Linked DNA regions of Homo sapiens: all the other regions are reported to be linked to region 2. The links are microRNA targets in miRTarBase. Many come from high-throughput screens and were not tested one by one. Region 2 holds a microRNA gene; each other region holds the end of a gene's coding sequence.

What was found. The annotated mature microRNA hsa-miR-3529-3p reads AACAACAAAAUCACUAGUCUUCCA and lies in region 2 at 2,048-2,071, shown strand. An mRNA with a match to its seed (bases 2 to 7 or 8) in the 3' UTR can be bound and repressed. Matches are read on the target gene's strand: a 7mer-m8 pairs with bases 2 to 8, a 7mer-A1 pairs with bases 2 to 7 and ends in A, and an 8mer does both.
Region 1: the mRNA of DIP2C is a reported target of hsa-miR-3529-3p. Seed matches in the 3' UTR shown: 7mer-A1 at 2,817-2,823 and 7mer-m8 at 1,812-1,818.
Region 3: the mRNA of ZNF614 is a reported target of hsa-miR-3529-3p. Seed matches in the 3' UTR shown: 7mer-m8 at 2,755-2,761.
Region 4: the mRNA of FYTTD1 is a reported target of hsa-miR-3529-3p. Seed matches in the 3' UTR shown: 7mer-m8 at 2,358-2,364, 7mer-A1 at 2,206-2,212 and 7mer-m8 at 1,988-1,994.

The regions. Positions count from the first base shown.
Region 1 is chr10:273,682-277,944 of GRCh38, forward strand. DIP2C (disco interacting protein 2 homolog C) reads right to left here. Exons shown (of 37, transcript NM_014974.3): 37 at 520-3,896. The coding sequence ends at 3,644. Among named protein-coding and RNA genes, the nearest start is that of ZMYND11, 140 kb to the left of the region's middle.
Region 2 is chr15:88,609,664-88,613,926 of GRCh38, reverse strand. MIR3529 (microRNA 3529) reads left to right here and starts at 2,003; the gene lies at 2,003-2,080. It overlaps MIR7-2 (microRNA 7-2), which reads right to left and starts at 2,102; the gene lies at 1,993-2,102. It also overlaps a transcript of AEN not described here. RefSeq lists an enhancer at 209-893.
Region 3 is chr19:52,012,125-52,016,364 of GRCh38, forward strand. It overlaps ZNF614 (zinc finger protein 614), which reads right to left. Exons shown (of 5, transcript NM_025040.4): 5 at 1,200-4,240. The coding sequence ends at 3,716. The region is part of intron 1 of LOC124904755 (a long non-coding RNA gene); the gene reads left to right. Among named protein-coding and RNA genes, the nearest start is that of ZNF615, 6.0 kb to the left of the region's middle.
Region 4 is chr3:197,781,125-197,785,387 of GRCh38, reverse strand. It overlaps FYTTD1 (forty-two-three domain containing 1), which reads right to left. Exons shown (of 9, transcript NM_032288.7): 9 at 1-3,577. The coding sequence ends at 3,479. Among named protein-coding and RNA genes, the nearest start is that of LRCH3, 8.0 kb to the left of the region's middle. RefSeq lists an enhancer at 2,750-2,949.

The DNA.
Region 1 (4,263 bases), not on the chromosome of region 2:
CTCCGCCTCCCGAGTTCATGCCATTCTCCTGCCTCAGCCTCCCGAGTAGCTGGGACTACAGGCACCCGCCACCATGCCCAGCTATTTTTTTTTTGTATTTTTAGTAGAGACAGGGTTTCACTGTGTTAGCCAGGATGGTCTCAATCTCCTGACCTCGTGATCCGCCCAACTCGGCCTCCCAAATTGCTGGGATTACAGGCGTGAGCCACGGTGCCCGGCCCTAGCTCCATTGATTTTTCTTGTGAATAAACACTTATCTTCATGGAACCACTAGTCTGAAGGCCAGTTGATCTGCTACTGCTTTCCCAAAGACAAAGCCATAAGAATTCCCAGATCTTGGGCAAAAGATGCAGCTTTTGGTTGTCAAATGGATAAAGACAATTTGGGGTGGAACAGTCAAGTACTCGTACTTCCTGACACGCAAAGGTTCCCTACGATACAGCTGATAGAAAGCATTTGCACACAGGACTCACGCTGTTTGTCCCCAAATTACCAATAATCTGTACACTTGCAGCAAAATGTGAACAAATATATTTAGATATATTTAAAAGAATTAAAAAAAACATTTCACAAAACATTTGTTGCCATAGGAATTATTTTTAGCAATAAATGCCCACATCAAAATTTAAACATTTTTCAAAGTATGATTATCTGTACTAAGTAATGCAACAAATTATGTAAACAGAGTCAGATACATTTCCCTGTAGGAGTCACTTCCTTCCCGGGATTAAAGCTGTCCCAGACATCTTTCCAGGGGACCAATTAAGAAACTGCTATTTTCAGAGCAACAAAAATAAAAGCTTTTATTTGTTCATTTGAATATAAAACAGGCGTTATCACAGATGTACAAAGCGTACTGGTGGTTTAACATACAAGAAGGTTGCTGTCCTTTGCACATAAAAATTTTGTTTGAAACTGTGGCTGGTTGAGTACATGAGTTTCTCTAACCAGTCACCACACTCTGAAATAACGCTGCTAACATTCAACTGATAAAAGGGACCATCTCCCTTGGGTAAAGTGTCAAGCAGGATTAAATATATATAATAAACAAGCACCATGAGGAATCTGCTCCTGTTTGATTAGGTCTGTGTTTATATGTTCACTGTGTACCCTCTTTTTGTGCAAGTTGATTACACGGTTTTGTCTGACTTCAAAAGCACAAGGTCACAAGACAAACATTTTTTACAATCTCATGAATGATTTATCTACAGTACAATTTTGAATACAGAATGACCCTTCTTTATTGCTGAAACTGGTGGTACTAAGTGTCTCCTTTCCTTTCTCTTGCACAACCAAATTTCAATCTCAGTCCACCAACTCTTTTGAGCCTAAACTCTAACTAATCAGAGTTGACAGGATGCAGAAGAGGCGGCTGCTAACTGCCCTCACAACTGCACTGCAGCGTCCACACTCCTTGAATGTAGAGTTGATCTGGTGACAGTTGAAATTATGTTTGAAGTGACATCTACATTTGTTTTGCTTCCTGACTTCAGCTGGACCTCAAAGCTGTCCTGCACACTGCAGCTAATGTTTCATAGTCAGTGCCTGGCCTGAAGCCCCAAACCTACCTCCCTTTCAACAAGGTGGGTGGGTGTAGGAAAATGTCTTTTTTCCCCCCAATGTGTGGTGGTTCCCCCCTTAGGAAGCAGAGACTAGGAATGTGCATCTGAAGCATGTGGAGAAATATTCACACACAGCAATGAGGTCAAACAATATTTCAAGAATCAAATGGTTTGTGGAGATGGAAGGATGCACCACATATGCAGACACATTTTTTTAAATGTGCCACTTTTTTTTTTTTTTTTTTTTTAACAACAATCAGCCTTGGATCTCAGAAGTCAAACAAAACTCTTTTAGCAAAAGGCTTACTGCTGACTGCATATAGCAAAGGCAGAGAAAGACGCTGCCCACAACATAATGAAAGATCATCTACATTTTGCCCAGCATCAATCTTAGTCATGCATATCTAGCACCGAGAGCCACTGCGGGGTCACACTGGGGCAGTTACAGAACACATCTTTCTCGGAGTGCAGATGCTCCTTCTTGGTTGGACACCGTGGGCCAATTCAATTTAGAAGTGCACAGGTGAGCTCTGAGAAGGTGTGGCCAGGAGCTGCCAGGGCAGAAACTGGGGCGCACTCGTCCACAGGCGGCAAACGACGCAGCTGGAGGACTTCTTGCTTCAGCCGGAGCTCTGGCATGAACCCCCGGGGAACTGTGCTCACTGAGCGAGGGAGCCCCAGAGGCTCACACAGAGCGGGCTGGGTCTTAAGACGAGGGGACGATCACCGATGTGAGTTCCGGACACTTTGTCCACTCCACATTGGCCATCAGAGGGGGAATCAATGCAACCCAGTGCGAATGACCACAGAATCGCATTCCTTTTCGTAGCAAGGACCAAAAAAAGATGACATTAACAAAAATGATGAAAAACATTGTGCAATGAATTCTTGCAGCTAAGAAAACAGTGCTATTTGCCAACCTAAAGCCCCTCAGTATCATCAGCACACGCTGGCATAAACACATTCACTGTTGTCCCACAGCAAAGAAAAAAATAGTGCACATTGAGCTTTGAATTCTTTTGCCATCCTTGAGATGGCAATAATTTCACTTGCTGGTCTCTGGTTCTAGAAGAAACTTTTAGACAGGGCTCCTGCGGTCTGCGACTGCTGGCAACAGCAGAGTGTATGTGAGTACGGGGGGCACACCATGCAAGTGACAAGTTCTGCATCTTAAACTTTAAAATCTCCTTTGTTCATTAGTGAATTTATATTTCATATATATATATTTGTTGTGATACTATCCACGCAAGATAATACAACACTTTTTTATATTAGCAAACATTACAAGACTTTAATATTCTTGAATGTTTTTCTCTTTTATAGTTCTAAAGAGATCAAAATAAATTAAACGTTTTGTACATAATTACATATTGAGGAAGTTAACTTATTTTATCTTTTTAGTTTAGTACAAAGATATTTGCAAGATAATTGCCGAAATACACCTTATTTATAATTTCTTCTCATTCTATACTAACTTCGAAGGCCGTATACCAGCCTTTGTTTCTTCAGCACATTTCTGACAAAGAAAGCTGCTATTATCTAATTGGAAGGTGCTATTTGGAAGGTTTTCTCGTACCTCAAACTTTCCTAAAAGGATGAGATCTAGCAATGGCTTAAATTAGTAACAGATCCATGTCATTAAGATTTCATGACACATTAAAACAGAGAAAACAATTCTTTGTCACACTACATAAATTGTTTAAAAGAACCCATCTGGAGGGCAGGATATTTTTTTAATTGCTATTTCGGCTTAACAAAATACCACATTTACGAAGAAAGCACTTATTATCCAATAATTAAAAAAGAAAGAAAAGAAAAGAAAGTTTTGAAATGGGCTTTTCCAACAAACTGAAGGCAGTAATCCAAAGTCCTTCTGAGCGAAATTCAGTGGTAAATTCACATTTCACCCCCATGCCAATCGTGGCTGCTGTGAGAAGTCCTCTTCCTCCTCCTCTTCCTCCTCCACTCTCACCACAAATGGCTGTATTCTGGTGAGTGTTGCCCTGTGTCTGCACGCTTCAGTGGACACGGAGAACAATGTCTACATCTCTAGAAAAGTCCATGGAAGCCAAGAGACGAGACTACATGTTGTAGGCCACATAGATGGGGTCTAGCTGGTCTGCCAAAAACCCGTCTCGCAGGTGCATGCGCTGCTTCTCCCCACGGGAGTTGATGGGGATGACGCCGATGTCCACCACGACCACCACTCCGACGATCAGGTAGTGCTCCTCCAGGACCACGTTGGTCACCAAGGGAACCAGGTCCAAGGCTTCTTGTTCCGACCCATCCAGCTCAACCACAACCACCAACAAATTTGTCCAGGTAAACACAGCACTAAAAGACAGAAAAGAAAGCCATCATTATATGTTTATTAATGCTTTATTTAATAGCCGTGGTTTCAAAGTTCCACTTGGCTCTCTCTGACCTGCCTGAGCACTGCCCGACAGTCTCCTCCGGCCTCTCCACGTCCTCCGTCTGCCGCCCACTAATCGTTCCCCATACAGACTTCCTGGCGACAGCACCTGTCGGTGTTTCCTACCAGCCTTCTCTCTCGGTGGCTTCTGCGACTGTTTCACCATCTTCCCGAGTTCCCATTTCTAGCACAGCATCACTCCACCTGGCCAGCGGAGTCTGTGTTCCAGTGCTGCCTCTTTGCTGCTGCCTGGAGGACCAATGCCCTCACTGAACAGTGCAGTGTGCC
Region 2 (4,263 bases):
GCACAAGGCTGGTGAAGAGGACAACCATGAAAACTATGAAAGAAAAGGCAGAAGAGACCAATATTGGGTATATACCCATGCTATTTTATATTATGACACTTCACTTGCCTACTTATCGTAATAACCTAGCAAGGTAGATGTGATCAATTCTGTTTCACAGTTGAGGAATCTGAGACTCAGAGATGTTAAGTGACTGACTCAAAGTCACACAGCTCGTAAGCAGTGGAGCCAAGATTGAAACTGGCACATGTTTGACTTCAGAGCCAGGACTCCCCCCACCACTTAACAAAGGCTGTCATATCCATCCCTCAAATCAGGAATGCACCCCACATCCCCCCCCGAGATGCTTGTTTCACTGAGACACAATCTCTCCCCGTTCCATCTCCAAACCAGCCCCAGAGGCTGAGGGCTGCCCAGGAGAGACTCAACTCCCCTCCTCTCCTGTTCTCCAGCTCTGCCCTTCCTGCCCAATCTGGGCTTCTCTCCCGCTGTGAAGGACAGATACCTGCTGAGTGACACCAATTTGCAGACTTCTGAAGTGTAAATGAGATTTCTAATAGGACTGGCTTCCCACTGGCTTCAGGCAGGGTTAGGAGTAAAGGGAAATTTAAGACTGGAAGTGCAGAAGAAGAGAGCCAGTTTGTAGGATAGGGAGCAGCAGAAGCAGAGGCAGCCAAAGTCTCTGGGTAGAAGTGAAGGGCTGACTTGGTTCAGAGAGGTCAAGTGCCTTGCCAGAGGTCACACAGCTAGCAACCGGAAGAGGTAGAATGAGCTCAGCTAATGGTTGCATTTTTAGCATTCCCTAAATGAGTACGATCCCCAACCCCCAACTTTAGTTTGTAATATGCTTTAGTCTCCTCTGCTGTATGGATGGAGGAGGGTGGGAATATACTTAGGAATAGGGAGGGCATTTGGATTTGTTGCTTGAAAATTAATCTCCACTGAAAGTGTCATCACTGTAACTTGGTGCTCACCTTAGGGCAAGGTACCCCCCAGGCAGAGGGATCCCAGGCAGAAAGGCTGGGAGGCCAGGCAAGGTGGCTGATGCCTATACTCCCAGCACTTTGGGAGACCGAGGTGGGCAGATCCCCTGACGTCACGAGTTCGAGACCAGCCTGACCAACATAGCAAACCCCTCTCTCTACCAAAAATACAAAAAATTAGCTGAGTTGGTGGCATTCACCTGTAATCCCAGCTAGTCGGGAGGCTGAGGCACAAGAATCACTTGAACCCAGGAGGTGGAGGTTGCAGTGAGTCAGGACTGTACCACTGCACTCCAGCCTGGGACAGAGTGAGACTCTGTCTCAAAAATAAATAAATAAATAAATAAATAAATAAATAAATAAATAAATAAAAGGCTGGGAAATGCTTTTTCTGATCACTAATTCTAATTGTATTCCTGCCACAGTGGGGGATGGTCCCCAAGCACTGGGCTTTTTTCCCTTGGCCACACCTCTGGATGTAGCAGCACAGAGGCAGGTACTGGGACCAAGAAATTCCATACACACAAGTCCACTCCCTCAGCTGTGGAGCAGGCACCAGACAAGCTCCGAGGTCAGGTGTGTCCCCCCTGCTGCCAGGTACACTGAACATCCGGGAACCTCGGTCTCCAGTGCATACCTCTCGGTGCCCGCATACACTGTGGCTGTCGGGCCACAGACAATGAGGCCCTGAGCCCCAGGATGTGGAGTCACAAGGTGCCTCCATTATAGGTGCCCCAAAGTGATTGTTGGGGGAATTAGTAATTAAGGAGGGTTTTTCTCCCCCTGCCCTTCAGGTAGTGGTATGGAAGCAGTCCACTGCTCCCTGAAAACAGAGACCCTGCCCCACTTCCCTGCTCACACCATAGTTTGTCCATGTTTCTGGAAGAGTCTGCCGATGGGTGTTTAGGGTGGTGACCTGAGATGTTTTCTAGGAAACACAAAAGATACAAAAAAGAACACGTGGAAGGATAGCCAAAAAGGGGGGCTGCCCCCATTTCCTGCACCCCGCTGCGATGGCTGGCACCATTAGGTAGACTGGGATTTGTTGTTGAGCGCAGTAAGACAACAACAAAATCACTAGTCTTCCAGATGGGGCCAGCCGGTCCACTCTGTATCCAGGCCAGTTCTGCAAGGCGTTCGAGGACCACCCCCCTCCCCTCGCCACCAGGTCAGCGGTCTGGATGCTCCTTCAGGCGAGGCGTTGTCTCCGCTCCTATTACTAAGTTCATCTTTGAACACCTCTCCTCACCTCAGAATTCCCTGGAGAAATTATTTTTTCTTACTTTTCCCTTTTTTCTGGAGTGTTCTACTTTCTATAATGGACACAGTTGTTTTGTTTTGTTTTGGTGAGACAGGGTCTTGCTCTGTCACCCAGGCTGTAGTGCAGTGGTGCAATCACAGCTCACTCCAGCTTCAACCTTCCAGACTCGAGTGTTCAAGTGATTCTTCCACCTCAGCCTCCCTAGTAGCTGAGACTACAGCTAATTTTTTTTTTTTTTTTTTTTTTTTTAGTAAAGACAAGGTCTCAGTATATTGCCCAGGCTGGTCTTGAACTCCTGGGCTCAAGTGATCCTCCTGCCTCAGCCTCTCAAAGTGCTGGGATTATAGACGTGAGCCACTGCACCCAATTTGAGCATATTTCCTTTACAAACAGGGGAATTATTTTTAAAGAGAAGCAGGCAAGTGGCTCATTTCTCTCTTTCCTTTACTAATCATAAAGCATTGAACCACCATGCAGAAGAGAAACTAGAGCTTGGAAATGGTGACCCCTCTCTACTGGTGCCTCCCCCTTCTGGAAGCCTATGGGCATGGCCCATGGTGAAAATTCTTCCTGTGGTTACTGAGCCCTGGAAGCTTCAGAATGAAGTCAGAGTGGTGGTGCTGGGGTAAGCAGAGCAGGAAGAGGAAAAGGGGAAATGGTTGTGGACAGGAGGCTGGTGGAATCCTGGCCCAGTCATCCCCTCCCTGCAGGCACAGCGCTGGGCTCCCTGGTTAATTTCCCTTGCAGTGTGGCACTGGTGGAGGAGAGGCAAAGCCCCTGCTGCCTGGGCCAGCCTCTAATTGCGCTGGCAGGACACATCCGCTCCTTAATTAGCAAAAGCCACAATATCCTGGCGGCTCAGAGAGCATGGCCCTAATTGTATTTCTGCAGCAACTGAAGGATAATTACCCTTCCCTATTGGTGCTGCTTTTAATTCTTTCTCTTTTTAATTGTGAGCACTTCCTCTTTAGCCCACCCTTCCATCCTTGGGTTTATTCTCTCTATCCAGAATGGGGGTGGGGGCTTGCCTGGTGATGGAGACGCTCAGGAGCAGGAGGAGTGGGGGGAGTCATGGAGAAGACTGGCAATACCTAGCTCTGAGTCCCAGCCCCTTCCAGCTGTCAGCCTGAGACAGGGCACATCTCTGCCATGGGTCTGAGAAAAACCAAGAAGTTCTTTTGTGGAAGATGTAAGGGAGAGGTGTTCCTCCCCCAGAGGCTCTTTATGACCCTCTTCAGTCTACCCCGCAGTGAGGTGCTGGCTCTGAAATTCCCAGCTGTAGAAAACTGAGACCTCCTTTCCCCATCCTTTAATCTATCAAGAAACAGAGATGGATGTGTGGTCTTTAATTTCTTTTACAAAAAAAAAAAAAAAATAGCCCCGTGCCTCTTTGCCACTGTTGAGAGGAGGGTTAGTCCTTCAACCTTGAATTGTTTTAGAGACAAGGACCTGAGGGTACCATTAGAGAACAATGCTAACTAAGGTAACCCCTTGGTTAATAGGAGAGCTTAGCACCCTAGGTATTTCTAGGAAAAACAGGCCTTTCTTAGGGACCTGGCAAATAAACTTTGAGAAGTAATAGACAAGCTAAAATGCACCACAAAGAGAGTTTGGAGAGAACCACAGCATCTCTCTGGATGTCAGCTTGCAGGACTGACTGATCTAGCTTACATGAGCAACCCTGGCCCTAAAGCCACCACCCAAACCACTGCCCTGCTAGAAGCTCACTATGAGAGCAGGGACTCTCACTCATTATTCTTCCAAGTGCCTCGCGCACAGCCTGGCCCGTGATAAATGAAACTGGTTGGCAAAGAAGCAGAGTTCAGAGACAGAGTAGGATTGTGAGGTGTGAACAGGGTAAATCCATTTTCATTGGCTTTTTCCTTACAGATCCAATGAAGATGAATTTGAACTGATTGTGGCCCTAGTTTTCAAAATTCTTTAATTCTGGGCTCTATCTGAATTGGGAGAAGATGCAAGCAATAAAAGAGGCTGCTGTAGTCTCAAAGAAATATATTT
Region 3 (4,240 bases), not on the chromosome of region 2:
CTACCCCCTCCACTCTGTCTTACTCCTGCTCCCTCTTCACCTTCCACCATGATTGTAAGCTTCCTGAGGCCTCCCCAGGACCAGATGCCAGTGCTATGCTTCCTGTACAGCCTGTAGAATCATAAGCCAATTAAACCTCTTTTCTTATAAATTATCCAGCCTCAAGTATTTATTTATAGCAATGCAAGAATGGCCTAAAACATGCTGTCTCTACAAAAAAAAAAAAAAAAAAAAAAAAAGCCAGGCATGAGGGTGCACACACATAGTCCCACCTACATGGGAGGCTGACGCAGGAGGAACACTTGAACCCAGGAGTTTGAGGCTGCAGTGAGCTATAATCGCACCACTGCACTCCAGCCTAGGCAACAGAGACTCTTTTTTTTGTTGTTTTTGTTTGTTTTTCAGACAGAGCCTATTCCGTTGCCCAGGCCTGGAGTGCAGTGGCAGGATCTCAGCTCACTGCAACCTCTGCCTCCCAGGTTCAAGTGATTCCTGCCTCAGCCTCACAAGTAATTGGGATTACAGGCGCCAACTGTAGAGCGCCCGATCCTGTCACTGTTTGGGGCGCCACTACGTAACCCACAAGGACCTAGGGGGACTGAAAAAAGTGGGGGAAACGGGAATAAAAGAGACAAAAGAGTATATTTGGAAGAAGGGATCAGGGGACACCTTGCCTCTAGTGGACAAGGGCCCTGAGCTTTACACAGCCCTCCATATTTATTAGGCAAAAGAGATAGTGAGAAGGCGGGTGGAAGAAGGGGTCAGCTACTCAGTCCAGAGTAGGGTTTGCAAGATGGCATTCTCTAGATGTCCCAGTAGATAACCTCAAGGAGCTCAGCACCAGGAAGCGATTGCCCTCAGCAAACCTTCTGGCAGCGGAAGCAGTCATGAGTTTGCCCACATCGTGCATTCATGATAAAGTTTGCTGTTTGATCATATAGCCTCCAGTGGAATGCTGAGTTGGTCACATCCCATGGGCCTTCGGCTCCCAACAGCCCAGCACCATACCCAGCTAATTTTTTGTGTGTATTTTTAGTAGACACAGGGTTTCGCCACGTTGGCCAGGCTGGTCTTGAACTTCTGACCTCAAGTGATCCGCCTGCCTCGGCCTCTCAAGAGACCCTGTCTCTTAAAAAAGAAAAAAAAGAGGTTAAGATTGTAAATCCTAAAAAAAAAAAAGCAAAAGCAAAAGCTGTATGTAGATTTCACAGCATCTTTATTTATAGCACTTAAAACCAGGAAAACAGTGCAAATATATCTCATAGGTGAATGGATAAACTACTACATCAAATATGTATACTACTCTCAAATATAAACAACTTTCATCTGGTTAGATACATGGTGGTAAAAAAAAATAATAAAACAACTATTCATCAACTCATATAAACCTTAGGAGTAATTTGCTGAGTGACAAAAATGCCAAAAGCTTACATACTCTCTATCAATAAAAATTCATATAACTTATTTATATAAAATTTATAAAAACCATTTACAAAAACAATTTTATTTTTATCATATTCATGAAATGATGAAATTATACTGATAGGAGAAAAGTGGTTGGCAGAGTTAGGTTTGGATGGAGTGTAAGCATAAAAAGGTAGCATGAGGGACTTTGTGTTCATTAGTTTTATGTGGTTGCAGTGGTTACACGAATCTGTACATGTAATACAACTTCTTAGAGTACAAACTAAAAAAGAAAAAAACATGTAAAAATTCGTCAAATCCAAAATAAGATTAGTACTTTATAGTATCCTACCAATGTTGTTTTTCTGGTTTTGATAATTATGGTTATATAGGATATTTTTACTAGAAATTGGTTGAAGGATACTAGCAAAGCCTCTAGACTGCTTTTGCAATTTCGAGTTCAAATTTATTTAAGTTGAAGGTGGTTTTATAAACTGATCATCTCTATAATCTTAGTTAAGCAAGTCCAAATATGTTGTTAATATATTTAACATATTCAGTTTCTTTTCTACTTAAGTTTGCTTAATGTACAATTAAGCTCAGAGCCAAAGAAAGGAAAAGAGCTAATCATAATATGGGGTGGTTGTTCTGGAGTATTTTCTGACACAAATAAATTCTCTAATTCTCCCACACCAATTGGGTGTTCTACAATTCAATTCTGAACAACTGGGTGTTCTATAATTCAATTCTGACACTAACTTCTCCAAGTTAGTGCAGACTCCACAAGTTAGTGCAGTCCAAGTTAGTGCAGTGCAAGTTAGTTAGTGCAGTCTAAATTAGTGCAGACTCCACAAGTTAAGGGGCTCAGTCCAAGACTTCCCCCACATCAGATGCCACTCACAAGGACAACCTGCAGTTCTGAATGGTGATAAATTCCGAGTTCCCACTGCCCTACTCAGGTTTGATAATTTGCTACAGGGCTCACAAAACTCAAGAAAACAGCGTACTTTGTTTTACTGGTTATAAAGGACGCAAATGAACACTCAAATGAAGAGGTACATAGAGTAAAGCCTAAAAAGGGTTCTCCTAATCTCAGGAGCCTCTACCCCTATGAAGTTGGGGGTGCACCACCCTCTTGGGCTATTTGGAGTTCTCTTAATCTCATTGTCTAATCTAATCTCCAGCACCCCTCCCCTTCCAGGAGGTGGGAGAAATGGGGCACAAAGTCTCCATCCTCTAGTTACTTGATCTTCCTAGAGAACAGCCCCATTCTGAGGCTGTCTAGGGGAGCAACCATAAGTCACTTCAGTAGTATAATCAGGTGTAATTAAAAGGGCAGTGCTATGAATAACAACAACAGCAAAAACAAAACAAAACCAAAAAACTCTTATCACTCATGAAATTCTAAGCGTTTTAGGAGCTCTATGCCAGGAACCAGGAACAAAGACCAAATGTATTTCTCATTATACCACAATTTTACACAACAGTAAAAATAAACAGTAATGAGACAGTATATTATGGAATCATTGGCAAGGCAACTAGAAATGAGGATTAAGGTATCCTGACTGAAAATGCACACCAGGTGTATTAGCTGATGTTTAAGGTTATACTTATTAAGAAAAAGCACTCAAATATTCATCATTTTCACCACATTTCATGCCTTCATGAGCTGTTGATAGTTTGCTAAAGGTGTTCCACATTTATTTGATAGCATGTTCGGAACAATTTTACTTTCTATGTGATCTCCTGACAAATGATGAAGCAGAGTGCGTCGCTGAAATCCTGCCATCAATACTGTCACCTTAAAGTTATTTTCCAGTGTAAACTTTGACACTCACTGAGGTCATATTTCTGAGTAAAGACTTTGTCATGGTCATCATGTTTCTATCAACAATAAGCTCACTTACGTTGAAATCTATGATGAAACCTGATAATAAAGTCTATCTTTCCACAGAAGACTTTTCTTAGTCTTTGTATTCACAGAATTTATCTCTGTATACTTTTCAGACATATGAGCAGAAATTATTGCTCAAAACATCTCCACATTAATATAGTTTATTCAACGTATTTTCATTGACAGAAAATATGAGGTAAAAGACCACTAAAGGCACTACCTTATTTACTGTATTCATCAAATTGATCTCTAGGGCAAATTATTTCACCTCCTGAGGACAGACACACATCTGTCAACAGGCAGCACCATGTTTATGTTCCAATTGGCTAGAAACACACTGATGTTTAATGAAGTCTGAGTTGCCACAAAAGGCATTTCCATAGTCACGGCACTAGTAGGGTTTTCTTCTGCATGAGTTCACTTATAAGGAAGGAGCTGTGACTCTCCATTACAGGAGTTTTCAACTTGACTGATTCTACCCATTTCTCTTGTGTGCATTTTCTTATGTTTGACAAGGTTTGATAAGTGGGAGAAGGCTTTCTCACAATCACTGCATCCATACGGCCTCTCTCCTGTATGCGTTCTTTGATGTACATTGAGTACTGACTTTGTGGTGAAGGCTTTTCCACATTCATTGCACTCATAAGGTTTCTCTCCTGTGTGAATTCTCTGATGGGTAATGAGGCCATATTTGTGTGAATAGGATTTTCCGCACTCGGTACATACAAAGGGAGTCTTTCCTGTATGACATCTCTCATGTTGTATGAGGCATATTTTCTGGCTGAAGGCTTTACCACATTCATTGCATTCATAGGGTTTTTCTCCTGTATGAGTTCGCTGATGTATAATAAGAGTGCGCTTTGTGGTGAAGCCTTTACCACATTCATTGCATATGTAAGATTTCTCTCCTGTATGAGTTCGCTGATGTATAACGAGAGTGCG
Region 4 (4,263 bases), not on the chromosome of region 2:
AGCAAATTGTTTTGAACCAAAAAAACATCTTGGAATGGAAAATCCATGTACACAGTGGGCCAACTTTTCGTTTACACAGATGTGGGACTTCAGTATTGCGCAGGGTTGGGTATATACAAGGGTCCTGGAACCAATCCTCCGTGTATACTGAGGGATGACTGTAATTAAAATTGTGGTGAAGAGTTTATGCCTGTTTTTAAAAAATGCATATCTGATTAGGAACACTGGACTTTTCTAACAGGTCTACCTAACCCAAATAGCAAAGTAATAAAGTATAACCATCACTGGTAGAATAGATTTACTTACCATGCTAAAAATGCTAAAGCATGGCTATTACCAATTCTTAGGTATTTGAAAACCACACACCATTCCACTATTTTCTGTGGGTGTTAATTCACCAAAGCAGTTTATTATCAATTAAGAATTAGAAGATCTGAGCTCAAAAAATAACTCTGCCACATGCAAGTCTTGAAAACACTAGGACTCACTTTACTAAGGTGTAAAAAGGAGGGGTTAAACTGGATTAGTCTCTAAAGGCTCATCTAACCCAATATTCTGCATTGCAAAGTATACTGGATTCTTTTTTTTTGTTTTTTTAAGACAGAGTGTCACTCTGTCACCCAGGCTGGAGTGCAATGGCGTGGTCTCGGCTCACTGCAATCTCTGCTTCCTGGATTCAAGCAATTCTCCCGCCTCAGCCTCCCAAGTAGCTGGGACCACAGGCACATGTCACCACACCAGCTAATGTCTGTATTTTTAGTAAAGATAGAGTCTCCCTATGTTAGCCAGGCTGGTCTTGCTCCTGGCCTCATGATCCGCCCGCCTTGGCCTCCCCAAGTTCTGGGATTACAGGCATGAGCCACCGTGCCCAGCCTGGATTCTTCTTTTTAGATTCATTTGTTGGAGCTACAAATGAAATCATCAAAAGAGAGAGGGATGCTAATAGAAGAGTCTACAGTGATTTACCAATTTTGCTAGTAGATAAGGTTTCACACCCTAAAAACTACAAATATAGATAACCACTACAAAGTTCTTCGTAACATAGAACAATCTAAAAACCACAACTCAATCTTTAGAGCTGAGAATAAATCATGTGAAACCTGTAACATTTTATTTGTTAAAAATGAACAGCTTCAGAATAGATCTAAATGTAACTTTTCCAAAAAACACCAAAAAGTACAGTGTAAAGCACCTCCTCGTTAAATACAAACTTTCATTTGGTGATGCACGGCACCAATGTTTTGCATATACCTTGATGCAAAGAAAAGTTTAAGTTGCATCCTGTTTTTAAAAAAAACCGAAACTTAAGAACTGAACAAGGATTACAACCACATTCCAATAAAGAAAATTTTCCTTCAACAAAGCATATTGTTTTGTTTATATACAATATGTGACCACCAAGAGTTTTAATTTAGTTGTACCAAAGGCAAAACATTATACTTAAAATTAAATTACAGATGCATGAAGAATAAAAGTTTAATGTATCAAAGATAATTTGTTATTTAATGCACTCAATGTCAGTATTTGGGGCAATTTTTAAAGTTTTCCCAAAAAATGGCATGAATAGCTCTATACAATAATAGGTAAGAACAGGAAAATGAAAACACCTTTATACCATATTTTCACAAACCATTCTAAAGACAGCAAACTTGAGCTCAGCTGCTTTTCCTTGCTTTAAAATAAGCTACCAGTAATTCTAAATCAGACTAAAATGTACTGTTCCTAGACCAAATACAGGCATTCATCCTTGCAAAAATGTTTTGCAATGAGTTCTTGGCCTATATGAAAAGCATCAAATAGCTAAGGAGAGACTAGAATTTATTTCCAAATTCTGTGACTGACTTCCAATAATCCCTTATCAGTACGAGTACCAGGAAAATATCAGATATTAAAGATCAGATTTAATTCTTTGGTATAAGCATGAAACTGTTACTGATAGCTTTCCATGGCGAGCATAAACCATGAAGCAACTCAAGAAGCATGAGAGACAACAATGAAATCTAGTATACAATGCAGGGCAGGCCAAGAACGATGTCTGCTTTACAGGAAAAGTCAACACTAACAATCTACTCCTGAGAAACTAACACCTATTTAGATGTTTTTAACATAATGGCAAACTAAAATGTCAAGCTTCAAAATGACCAAACTTGTAACGTACAGCTGGAAGATTTTGCTGCATTTGGCATTATACTGTAATTTACAGTATACAACATCTGGGGACTCAGTACTATCTTAGCACAGACTAACTTCTCCCACTCCGTCAGAGGTGGCAGGTGGCGGGTCGGTGGGGAGGGCCTTTTCTCCCCATAAATGCCTGAACTTTAATTTATACCATATAAGAAATCAGTGAAAGGTAAACAACAAGGTTAATGTAACTCTATTATAAATTTTGCATTTTTTTTCTCTGTGACATATACAAGTATATTTTTGTTTTTGGAGCTATAAATTATTTAATTTAGCAATCTTCAAAGCTCATAAATTTCAACTTTTCAAATAAGAAATTTTAACTTCAAATAAGAAGTCTAGGACTTTATGGCTATTAATTTTACTATCAAAATATCCAAGGGACTCCATTCAATGTAATAGTTATAATTCTTCTAAATATCATTTGAATAATTCTTTGTGGACGCTAGACTCAAGACTATGCTACATCCAAACAGTACATCTATAACCAGGGTTTTGAAGTGTTTCATCTCAACTACCTGTCCTTCAACTTGCTACTTACTTCCTCTCATGCCTTCATTTATTAAACACAAACTGTCATTTTTTAAAACTGGACCTTCTCCTCCAAGGCCCTATCAGATAACTTTGTGAATATGCATTTACAGTCTCTAAACACCAACATTTTAAACTAAGACTAATACCTAGGGCCACATTTCCTGTTAAAAGCTCAGCACTAAAGCTGTGTAATTCCAGGGGACTTTACACCGTCTGAAAGAGGAAGCACGTTCTGGATGTCCCCCTAAGTCTTCAAACCCACAGCTGGAAATTCTAATACATTGTTCTGTGTCTCTAATGAAGAAAAGGCAACGGCACTGACTACATCAACACTATTAAAGGGCAAGTGACAGCAACCAAGGGACCTACTCATGTTTATGAAGACCAGGATTTACCATGACAAAGTCTAAAACACGGGCAAAGGTGATGAGATCCTGAATACTGCTATCATAAAAATAATCAATTTCTATCTTTCTGTCTTCCTTCTGCTGCATGAGGAACCAAAGAAGTCAAACAGATGATTGTTCTGTCTGAGCCAACCATGAAATCTTTAAGAACAGACAGGTATAATCCCTATTATTCTTTCAGGGCATTATTTTATACGTTTTTTTTTTTAAAAAAAAAAACCTTCAAAAATAAAAATAAGAGTTATTTAGCCTTGTGAATATTTTGAAGTAAAGTTTCTTGAATTTCCGTGATGAACTCTTCAAGCAATTCAACTTCTCAGAGTCATCACTCAAAAGTTCCTTTGACATGGGACCTATCCCACGGTGACAAAGCGGCTTCCCCCTTTGTTGTATGTGAGAGTGGCTCTTTGTTCCTTCAGGATCCCAAACCGCTCATTCAACGTCATCCCTGTCTAGAGAAAAGAAAAAAACAAAAACAACAACAAAGCAACAATTAACAACTTTACTGAAGGCCATATTTGCTTTGGAACAATAATGTGATCTTATGATTAATTACAAGTAATGACAGCTAAAATTTCCTAAATATTTACATGTATGACCTCATATAAAGCCTACATTATATACTATATAAAACACACATATGCTATAATGCCTAGAAGTCATACACCCAAAGCCCCTATCTGAATTATTTTCAGGCTCTGTAAACACTGCCACCAACTCATGATGTCACTGATAAAAGTAAGAACTCTTCAGACCTGTAAATATTTTATAGCAAATTTTCTTGAATTACGGTGAGTTCAACACAGAAATTCAAATCAAATTCAAATGAAAATCTGTTTTTTTTTTTATTAACAACAGCATCTACAAACTATACCATTTCTGGAAAACAATAATAGCAACAAAATAAAAATAAGCAAAACAAATTTGGTCAAAATTTTTTTTTTTTTTTTATTGAGACAGTCTGGCTGTCATCCAGGCTGGAGTGCAGTGGCACAATCTCAGCTCATTGCAACTTCCGCCTCCTGGGTTCAAGCAATTCTCCCACCTCAGCCTCCCGAGTAGCTGGGATTACAGGCACGTGCTACCACACCCGGCTAATTTTTTTATTTTTAGTGGAGACAGGGTTTTTCCATGTTGA